Linked DNA regions of Homo sapiens. The protein of the gene in region 1 purifies or fractionates together with the protein of each later gene. This does not show direct contact. Each region holds a gene or a part of one and is shown in the gene's direction. Other genes may lie near its edges. The genes, in order: MRC2, SLC9A7 and TSPAN5.

Region 1 (3,652 bases):
TGTTACTTCTTGATGATATGCTAAACAAGGGGTGGATTATTCATGAGTTTTCTGGGAAAGGGGTGGGCAATTCCCGGAACTGAGGGAGTCTTCCCTTTTTAGACCCTATAAGGTAATTTCTTGACGTTGCCATGACATTTGTAAACTGTCGTGGCGCTGATAGGAGTATCTTTTAGCATGCCAATGCGTTATAATTAGTGTATAAAAAAATGGGCAGTGAGAATGACCACAAGTCATTTTTTTTTTTTGAGATGGAGTCTCACTCTGTTGCCCAGGCTGAAGTGCGATGGCGTGGTCTTGGCTCACTGCAACCTCTGCCTCCCAGGTTCAAGCAATTCTCCTGCCTCAGCCTCCCAAGTAGCTGGGACTGTAGGCATGTGCCACTACACGTGGCTAATGTTTGTACTTTTAGTAGAGATGGGATTTTACCATGTTGACCAGGCTGGTCTTGAACTCCTGACCTCATGATCTGCCTGCCTCAGCCTCCCAAAGTGCTGGGATTACAGGCGTGAGCCACCACGCCTAGCCCAGAGATCACTTTTGTCACCTTTTAGTTTTGGTGGGATTTGGGTGGCTTCTATACTGCGTGCTGTTTTTTCAGCAAGGTCTTTGTGACCTGTGTCTTGTGTTGACCTCCGGTGTCATCCTGTGGCTTAGAATGCCTAACCTCTTGGGAACGCAGCCCAGGAGTTCCCAGCCTCGTTTTACCCAGCCCCTTTTAAAGATGGAGTTGCTCTGGTTTGAACACCTCTGATACAACTTTTTTTTTTTTTTTTTTAGGACGGAGTCTCCCTCTGTCACCCAGGCTGGAGTGCAGTGGCACAATCTTGGCTCACCACAACTTCCACCTTCCGAGTTCAGGCGATTCTCTTGCCTCAGCTTCCCAAGTAGCTGGGACTACAGGCACGTGCCACCACGCCCAGCTAATTTTTGTAGTTTTAGTGGAGACGGGGTTTTACCATGTTGGCCAGACGGGTCTTGAACTCCTGACCTCAGGCGATCCACCCGCCTTGGCCTCCCAAAGTGCTGGGATTACAGAAGTGCACCACCATGCCCAGCCCCATTGTTTTTTTTTTAAATTGAAGCAGGTCTGAACCTGTTACTTCATTGCTATTTTTCTCTTTTTTTTTTTTTTTTTTTTTCAGAAATAGCCTCAATCAGAGGCATTACTTCTTCGTGACACTTTGCTAACTACTGTAAGTGCCAAAAAGTAATCATAGTTTTTCTGAAAGTAAAAGAAATACCAAAGAAAAAAAATCCCACCCTCAATGGTCCTACCCCCTAAAGCCCCTCAATTTATCACCATCCTCTTTATCACCTTCCTCTTCATCCTTACACTTCTCTATTTAACCTTCATTTAGGGAAGGATAAGGAGCTTCCTGGGACTCTGGAATAAAACCAAGACAGACTAGGGAACACTGGGATGGTTGGGCATACCTCTCCCCTTTTTGCCTCTAGTTGCCTTTAGCCTACTGTCTGAGGGACTGCCTCCCAAGGGTCATACTGATGAGGCTCCCTAATTACTAAATTAAGTGACCTTTCTTAGGCCTCACCTTGCAGCATGCATGCTGTTCATTGGCCTCAATTGTAAGAATGGGCCAGGCATGGTGGCTCATGCCTGTTACTCCAGTGCGTTTGGAGGCCACGGGAGGAGAGACTGCTTGAGGCCAGGAGTTTGAGACCAGCTGGGGCAACATAACAAGACCCTGTGTCTAGAATTTTTTTTTTTTTTTCTGAGACGGAGTCTCGCTCTGTTGCCCAGGCTGGAGTGCAGTGGCACGATCTCCACTCACTGCAAGCTCTGCCTCCCCGGTTCACGCAATTCTCCTGCCTCAGCCTCCCGAGTAGCTGGGACTACAGGCGCCCGCCACCACGCCCGGCTAATTTTTTGTGTTTTTAGTAGAGACAGGGTTTCACTGTGTTAGCCAGGATGGTCTCAATCTCCTGACCTCGTGATCCACCTGCCTCGGCCTCCCAAAGTGCTAGGATTACAGGCGTGAGCCACCGCGCCCGGCCAATTTTTTTTTTTTTAAATTAGCTGGGCACAGTGGTGCGTGCCTGTAGTCTCAGCTACTCAGGAGGCTGAGGCAGGAGGATTACTTGAGCCCAGGAGTTGGAGGCTGCAGTGAGCTATGATTGCACCACTGCACAACCTGGGCAACAGAGTGAGACCCTGTCGCAAAAAAAAAAAAAAGTAAAAATGCATGCTCAGTGGAAAACATTCAAACCATACACAAGTAAGTGCAAAAAAATGTGAAGTCCACTCCCTTACACTACACTGATTACACACTAGCACAGGCCACAGTCTACCACTGGTAGATTCTGTGGGTAATCTTCCCAACCAAGATTCCCCAATGAAGATTAGTAGTAGTTCATTGGGTAATCTTCTGATTTTTTTTTTTTTTTTTTTTTTTTTGAGACGGAGTCTCGCTCTGTCGCCCAGGCTGGAGTGCAGCGGCGGGATCTCGGCTCACTGCAAGCTCCACCTCCCAGGTTCACGCCATTCTCCCACCTCAGCCTCCCGAGTAGCTGGGATTACAGGCACTCACCACCACGCCTGGCTAATTTTGTTTTTGAATTTTTAGTAGAGACGGGGTTTCACCGTGTTAGCCAGGATGGTCTCAACCTCCTGACCTCGTGATCCGCCCGCCTCAGCCTCCCAAGTGCTGCGATTACAGGCGTGAGTCACAGCACCTGGCCTGTCGTTGTTTTTTAACTAAAGACAGAGTCTCACTATGTTGCCCAGGCCTGGCTTTGAACTTCTGGGCTCATGCGATTCTTCTGCCTTGGCCTCCCAAAGTGCTGGGATTACAGGCACAAACCACTGCACCTGGACCAATGGACACTTTTGAAAACTCTCTTCCCCCGGCCTTTGTGGTGTAATTTACATCCACAGTTTCCTCCCTTAGGGTCTTCCCTTCCACCCTCAGTCCAGAGCTGGCATTGCTGCCAGGTTAGCGCTGCTAAGGGGAAGCTTGAATCGATGTAAACTTTCTGAATTTAGAATTTCTGCTAGGCTCGGTGACTCATGCCTGTAATCCCAGCACTTTGGGAGGCCGAGGCAGGCGGATCACCTGAAGTCAGGAGTTCAAGACCAGCCTGGCCAGGTAAAACCCCCGTCTCTACTAAAAATACAAAAATACAAAATAGTGAAACCCTGTCTCTACTAAAAATACAAAAATCAGCCATGTGTGATGGTGCATGCCTGTAATCCCAGCACTTTGGGAGGCTGAGGCAGGTGGATCACTTGAGGTCAGGGGTTCGAGACTAGTCTGGCCAACATGGTGAAACCCTGTCTCTCCTGAAAATACAAAAATTAGCTGGGCATGGTGGCACATGCCTGTAATCCCAGCAGCTCGGGAGGCTGAGGCAGGAGAATCACTTGAACCCTGGAGGTGGAGGTTGCAGTGAGCTGAGATCACGCCATTGCACTCCAGCCTGGGTAAAAGAGGAAGACTGTGTCTCAAAAAAAAAAAAAAAGAAAAGAAAAAGAAAGAATTCCCGGCCTTCTCAGTGCTTGTGCAGGTCAAGCTGAGCTCCTTACCGTTCCCATAGCTCCCAGTACTGCCCAACCCGGACTCTGCTCAGGCTTTTTTTCCCTGCCAGGAGCACCAGCTTCCCAGGGGGCTGTTTCTGAGTCCCAACTCACACC
Region 2 (3,652 bases), on another chromosome or scaffold:
TTTTGTGTTGCCATATTTTAACCACAAGGGGGCAGCATCACCACCTTCGCTGTCTCCCTTCCATCTTTAATATGAGCGCATTGGGCCCAGGGTAGAGAAGAAAAGGTTTTACAACTTTAAAAAGCAATATTCGTCATCTGGTGATGATTGTAAATATGATAGTGATGATTACTGGAAGAGAGTTGAAGAATGTTTCCTCTAATTGAGGAATTTGTCTACAAATATAAACCCTCTCTTGTTAGAGTAGTATTCATGAGGACCTTTGCTAGTATGCTTCAGTCTTTCCATTAGCTCTGCTAATAATGAGGTTAGAAAAGTCAAGAAACAATGAGTTACATGAAGCAGGTTCTGATTTTTAGGAGAAAGATAGTCTGTAAATGACTTGTTTTGGCTTCCTGATGACAATTTAAGTTAAATCATGTTCCAAATAGCTGCCTCCAGATGCTGCAGATCATCCTGTATTATGATGAGTGTTGAAGGGCTAGAGTCGTCTTTGCCATGTAAAACTTCGTCAGAAAATAACTGTCTAACCAGGGAGTGAAATAAGACTAAAAAGCATCACAGAGTTCCATCTAGAGTGGAGAGAGAGCCCCCCAGAGCCCTGAACAGCTCCACTGCCACCAATCTCATTACCATCACACCTGCAAAGGGGCCACTGCTGCCACAGCTGGCCCCAGTCACCATTACTGTGACCGCAAACATGAGCAGTGAGGCTGAGACACTTGGCATGACACCATGGGCAGAGGCAGAGGGAGTGGCAGCCTGCAAACAGGACAAGAAGGTTATCCCAGTGAAAGTTTGGGAACAGTAAGATGGTTCAGTGTAAGAAATATATATGGTTTCGTCCACAGGAATGACACTGGGTGAGATGTATTTGTATGCCAGATTGTCATAAAGAAGAATAACCCCCAGGAAACACCCTGGCAGTACAGGGGATGGAGAAGCTGTGGAGTTCGATGTTGAAGGAGAAAACGGTACACAGGCAGCAAAGATTGCAGGCCCTGGTGGAGTTCCAGTGCCAGGCAGTACAGATGCAGTAGACTGAAGCCATTATAGATGTTATCTGCATCATGGGGGTCTTCCACACGGTCACCAGCACAATTACCAGAACAATGAGAGTGGGGAAAAGAAGGATTGGAGAGTTCCCTTAAACGTCAGGCCTTACAGCACACAGAAGATGCCTCCTCCCTTGCAGAGACCCTATGATTCTTGACCAGAGTGTTCTAACCCTCCTGTGCAGAGACAAGTGATGGAGGGTGGTGACAACCAGGGTGAAGGAGAAGAGGTAGGTCAGTGAGACAGATTACGTATTGGGGTTACAGACCACGAATCTCCAGGGCCCCTCCTCACCTAGAACAGTAATGAACACCCAAGGCCAGCAGCCATGTCATTGTAGGCACCCCCCAACTTCAGTTACCAGCACAGACACCCAGAAAACCCTGAACCACAAGATGGCAAAGAGACTGACAGCTAGGAAGTCCGTTGCCAAGGCTGAGCAGAGCAGGACAGAGTAAATGCCAGCCAACCATTTCTAGTGTCATCTGGTTTGTCATCCTACAGGAATAAATGAATATAAATTCCAGCAATAAGACCTGAACAAAAGATTGGTTCTGAAGACCTTAAGTGACTGCTTTTGGCCCATTTACCAGACAGCTAGCACTATCTGAGTTATGGAGCTTTCATTACTTTTCCCTACAGACATCTCTTTTTGGTAATGATAAATATGTTTTTTTAAATATGTTTTTTAAAAGGTCTGGGGCCAGGCATGGTGGCTCACGCCTGTAATCCCAGCACTTTGGGAGGCCGAGGTGGGTGGATCACCAGAGGTCAATAGTTCGAGACCAGCCTAGCCAACATGGTGAAACCCCGTCTCTACTAAAAATACAAAAATTAGCTGGGTGTGATAGCGCATGCCTGTAGTCCCAGCTACTCGGGAGGCTGAGGCAGGAGAATTGCTTGAACCTGGGAGGCGGAGGTTGCAGCAAGCCGAGATTGCACCACTGCACTCCAGCCTGGGTGACAAAGTGAGACTCTGTCTCAAAAAACAAATAAAATAAAATAAAAGGTCTGGTTTTTCTTATATGCCTTTAAAGGTTTTCAAATTGTTTCGTATCTGGTCAGATTGAGATTATTAAGAAACTCATTTTTAAGTTGTAAAAAAAATCAAGTTGTTTTATTACAAGTCAACAAACTGCAAGTATCTGTTAATATGGGTCTATAATAATTATAATAACACAACACAGATGCAGATTTTGGCTCAAAGAACTATATTTTTCTAGATTTTATATTTTATTTGCTATTCAACAATGTCTTGTGAGTTCTTATATATCTTGGTGATAAGAGACATTATAGAACATTACACATGGAAGACAGTAAACATCGTTCTTTTTCTCAGCAACTTTCTCCATTAATGGCAAAATGAGATGAGGAAGCAAATATATCATTCTGTCTTTTAATATTGCCAGCAAAGAACTGAATTTAGAGAGAAGTCTGAAATTTTCCTTCTAGAGAATTATAGAAAGTGTCTGATAGTGATTTATGGCTGGTTTTTTGTTTTTGTTTTTTAATCTTTCACTCACTTTTACTTGGGCATGTCTGACTCGTGTTCAGGTCCAGGGAGCCACACTCCTTCCTTATTCACAGAATTGAATGCTTATACATGATCTTGCTGTTTTTATTTTTCCTAATGGGAGAGCCCTACTAAGAAGGGTATGAGACTTACATACTTGTAGCTGATGATCTTAGCCATCTCATAGCTACAGCCCCAAGAAGCCAGCTCTCCAGCCCCTGAATCCTGACTCCTCAAATGTACACTGCAGTGTTTCACTTCCCAAGGGGTGTAATTACCTTCTCCATGATACCAGTGTTTCAAATGACCTAAGCAAAAGAATTTCTTTTTTCTCCCCTTTCCTCTGATGTGTGGCAAAGCAAGTTACATTTATAGCAACTGGAAATTCCAGTGGGCTGGTCCTTGCTGGCACATGGCAACAGGACTGGCTTGAGGGATGCTGCTGAGTGAAATGAAAGAGCTCAGCAGTTCTGCTTTGTGCTGTCCTGGCCAGAAAAATCTTTGCTGCTTGTCATCCCATCTTCCTCCACTAGAAGCCTGAGAAATGAGACATGCTCAGGTGTTAAAAGTGGTCACAGGGCTGGCTGGATGTGGTGGCTCACACCTGTAATCCCAGCACTTTGGGAAGCTGAAGCCAGCAGATCACTTGAGGTCAGGAGTTCGAGACCAGCCTGGCCAACATAGTGAAACCTTGTCTCTACTAAAAATACAAAAAAAAAAAAAAAAAAAAAATTAGCCGGGTGTAGTGGTGGGTGCCTGTAGTCCCAGCTACTTGGGAGGCTGAGGCAGGAGAATTGCTTGAACCTGGGAAGCGGAGGTTGCAGTGAGCCCAGATCACGCCACTGCACTCCAGCCTGGGTGAGAGAGCGAGACTCCACTCAAAAAACAAAAAAGTGCTCACAGTGTCATAATACCACTGAAGGTACTGTCCCACCTTGTCCTCCTGGTGGCCGAGCAACTTAAATCGGACCAGAATAGATGGATGCTTAACCCTTTCAATCCTGAAGGCCCATGCAGTTTCTCCTAAAATACATACCCCATGCCCAGTTTCTAAGATTACTGCTGCATTTCTTAGTTGTTGAA
Region 3 (3,652 bases), on another chromosome or scaffold:
ATATGAATTGAATTTGGACTCAATTTTTGGTATGTATAATATGTAACATGAAGAGAAAATTTACCAGGGGAACTGGAAAATGCACTTAACTTTTATGGAGGTGAGAACAAAAACTGAATTAAAATCTTTCCCTGACTTGGTGTTTCCTGTGTATGCTCATGCATGCTAGCTATAATTTTGTCATTTCTGTACTGTGATAATTCATAATTCATATTTACATGCTTAAGGTGGGGCCTAATACAGGGCAGGGCGTTATTTACACTGTAGGGTAGGCATTGAGCAGAAGTGGTGTGATATTTTTTCTGTTCATTTTTCTAGATTGGGGAAAGTTTAAATTGAAATTATTGGCATCACTGATGATAATTAAGAACTGTTTAAATTCCATTTCTGGCGAATTCCTGAAGGATATATAATCAGGAACTCTAGGGAAACCTGAAGGGCTGAGCTGGAGGGTCTAGAATTGGGGCCTTAACCTGGGAGTCCAAAAACTTTGCCAAACACTTATTTCCACCTTCCACTCCTCCTCCCGTGCCCACCCTCACAGAGCAGTACTTGGCACCCTAGACAAATACTGCCAGATCTACAGACATCTAATGTCTGCAGATACCCACTCCCTGCCTAGCCTCCCTAATCACATAAGACTGGGACATCTTCGAAGGCAAGGATACCCCTTGTTCTTACTCATCCTTGTTTCTGCAAAGCCCACCTACCTCAGGGCCTGACTCATTGTGGGTCATTCAGTAGATGTTTGCTGAATGAATAAACATTGTTTGTCTTTTGTTCTTTTAATGAGTAACTGCTGTTTCCTTTGCACCCCTCCCCAATACATTTTTCTCTTGGCTGGCAGCTCCTTGTCTGCTTGCTGAAGATAGAACCGCAGACCACCTGAGCACCCCCTGCCTCCTCAGCTGCTCACTGTTCTTCTGCATGTGGCCTTCAGGACCTCTGCCCAGCAGTTGTGGCCCATGTCACCCTCTCTGCTGTTGTCACCAGAAATTTACCCGCACTGTACCCTCTGGTCCTTCACAGCTCATTTCTCATAATCTATTTTAACAACAAAGTTTGAGAAGGTTAAGAATACAGGATGGTAGGAGGTGGAAAAAACAGTGGGCGTGAGCAGTAAGTCGATATGACTAAGCTGAGACTCTTCTGAGTCTTCTAGATGGAAGGGGAATTTCTCCAGAGTTACGGGCAGTTACCACGTTGCCTCATGGTCTTGAGCCCCTCTTTTAAAACCCCTGTTGTCTACATTAAGCGGAAGTCTCCCCTTGGCTGCATTTTGATGTCACTTAAAATGTTGCTGGGGCCCATGCTTCCTAGAGGAAGGCAAGCACAGCTAGCATTCCCAGGAAAGCCCTCAACTCAGGGGTTTCATTTTGTTTTTATGATGGGAAATAACTTTCATTTCGCGGTCACTGCCCACCCCACTACTTCCTCTTTGACCCCTTCATCTAAGATGAACACATCTGTTATTTTACCCTGTATAGCAGGTGCAAAAGAGAATTAAAATGGTGTCTGAATCCATAAAAGGAATATATTGCATAGAGAATCAAGGCCACAGTAACAAGTGACAGGCGATCTTAAAATATTGGAATAATCTATCTTTCAAGTTACAGAAGCTTACTAGAGATAGGGGCAGGTCATTGTTACAAGCATCTGGCAGTACATTAATCATGAGAAATTAATTAGGCCTTAATGTGGGTCTAATGAGAAATCCTTATTATCCATGTTTGCTTATGGGCTTTGTTGGTTAATTATCAAATGGAACACTAGAGACCCTAAAATGTGATTATAAAATGATTTTTAAAAGTCCTTTCTTGGAGTGTAATATTCTATTAATGAATCAGCAGAAACTGAAGATTATCTGCTTTGGAGATGTGTAACAATCCAATGTAATTACAAACCTGTTTAGAGAGGAACCATTTAGCTATATATGATCAAAATAGCCCTTATAACTGTTCTCTGTGTATGTGTCTTTTATCTTAGTTTTCTGTGTTCCTGGGAATTATTTTCTTCCTGGAGCTCACTGCCGGAGTTCTAGCATTTGTTTTCAAAGACTGGATCAAAGACCAGCTGTATTTCTTTATAAACAACAACATCAGAGCATATCGGGATGACATTGATTTGCAAAACCTCATAGACTTCACCCAGGAATATGTAAGTTTAAAGTGGTTTGTTTTCAAGTTGAAAGTTCTCTGAACGATGACCCCAGTGAATTTCATCCCTCCTGGTTTCTGCATCTGCCAGCTGGAAACTACCTGACTATTCTGCATGGGTGTTTGTTTGTTTGTTTATTATTTTCCGACTTGCTCTGTGACTTACAGGATTTGTATTCTAAATGGAAATTTCCTATTTTCACTTGTTTCAACTTCTGTTAAGTTAGAGGAACAAAGAAGAAAATGCTTGAGCAAAACGTTATAATCATGGCTGTCCTTTCCTATTTGCATTTGAGGAACATTGTTTTGCTCCGGGTTTAAAGTTTTCTTTGGTTATTAAATATGGATTCTTTCTTATCCCTTGCCCCCTTTTTTGGTAATCCTTGATATTTCACAGCTCATAATAATCTACTTATCAACAGAATAATTTGCCACAAAGTTCCTAAAATGTGCCTATCCAAATATTATTATTGCACATGCAGTTAAAAGCAAAAGCTTAGAAACTCCTAAGTCCTAGTGGCTTCTAACAAGTGAAGAATCTGTGCAGTGGAATCCGGGCCACTCTCTCCTATCCCTGAGCATTGGAGTCCAGGCCACTCCCTCCCGTCTCTGAGCATGCCTGTGAAATGGCTCTTTCAGTGCCAGCAAAGCAGCAGATGTCCCGTTTCACTCAGAATGCAAGGGACCAAAAGACACAGGTCTAGTGCCAAAATCTGATAAGGGACCCTGGGCTCACAGGACCTTGACCTATTTCCCCAATAGCAAAATGGAAATAATACTAGCTACTGTCTAACTCACAGGGATATTATGACACTAATGAGACATACATGTTTTTATATTAGGCTAAGGTGTTAGGGTCCTACAAACTTGCAGGTCTTTATATACCTGCACTGAAAAGTCGGGTAGGCTGAGCTTGGACTTGGACAGCGGTGTCTGTGGCATTCATGTATATGGCAGGACCGGAGGGCAAGCAGAAGCCCAGTGAACGGTAGCCTTCTTGGGGTTGGATAGTTGTCTGCCTGTGATGAAGGGAGGCAGCAGCCATGTTGACACTCTTTATGAGGGAGGCCATCCCCTTCCTTAGGCACTCAGGACTGAGCAGGGTTATGTGGTTTTGTTCAGTGGCAGCAACATTTCGTCCTGGAGTAAGCTGCCCCTTAAGTGGGAAATTAAGCCCTGATTCATGTCCTCAGCCGACTTCACTGTTTTATTAGGTCCTAATGGGTGCAGGCTCCCTAATAATCCCTTTCCTGGCATTATTCCTGACTAGTTTGCATGACACATTGATGGAGCTTTGTGGACACACCTCGAAATGCATGACCCAAGCCCTGGAAGGACCATGTTGTCTTGGGATGCTGTGTGCTTTAAACGGAAATACTACAGTTTCATGTGATTTTCTTTTTGCATCATGGAATGTAATGTTTAGAAGTAGCTGTTGGTCCGGAAGGTCTTCAAATGGTTGAGACTTGATATTTATTTAACTCAGAGAAGTAGAG

The links.
Region 2: the proteins of MRC2 (region 1) and SLC9A7 fractionate together in Homo sapiens (co-fractionation; one large-scale study listed by BioGRID). This does not show direct contact.
Region 3: the proteins of MRC2 (region 1) and TSPAN5 purify together in Homo sapiens (co-immunoprecipitation; one large-scale study listed by IntAct). This does not show direct contact.

Annotation. Positions count from the first base shown.
Region 1 is NC_000017.11:62,634,071-62,637,722, forward strand, and holds part of MRC2 (C-type mannose receptor 2 precursor), read left to right. Parts: intron 1-3,652. UniProt on the Homo sapiens protein: May play a role as endocytotic lectin receptor displaying calcium-dependent lectin activity. Internalizes glycosylated ligands from the extracellular space for release in an endosomal compartment via clathrin-mediated endocytosis.
Region 2 is NC_000023.11:46,682,610-46,686,261, reverse strand, and holds part of SLC9A7 (sodium/hydrogen exchanger 7), read left to right. Parts: intron 1-3,652. UniProt on the Homo sapiens protein: Golgi Na(+), K(+)/(H+) antiporter. Mediates the electoneutral influx of Na(+) or K(+) in exchange for H(+). May contribute to the regulation of Golgi apparatus volume and pH.
Region 3 is NC_000004.12:98,480,510-98,484,161, reverse strand, and holds part of TSPAN5 (tetraspanin-5), read left to right. Parts: intron 1-1,986; coding exon 1,987-2,157; intron 2,158-3,652. UniProt on the Homo sapiens protein: Part of TspanC8 subgroup, composed of 6 members that interact with the transmembrane metalloprotease ADAM10.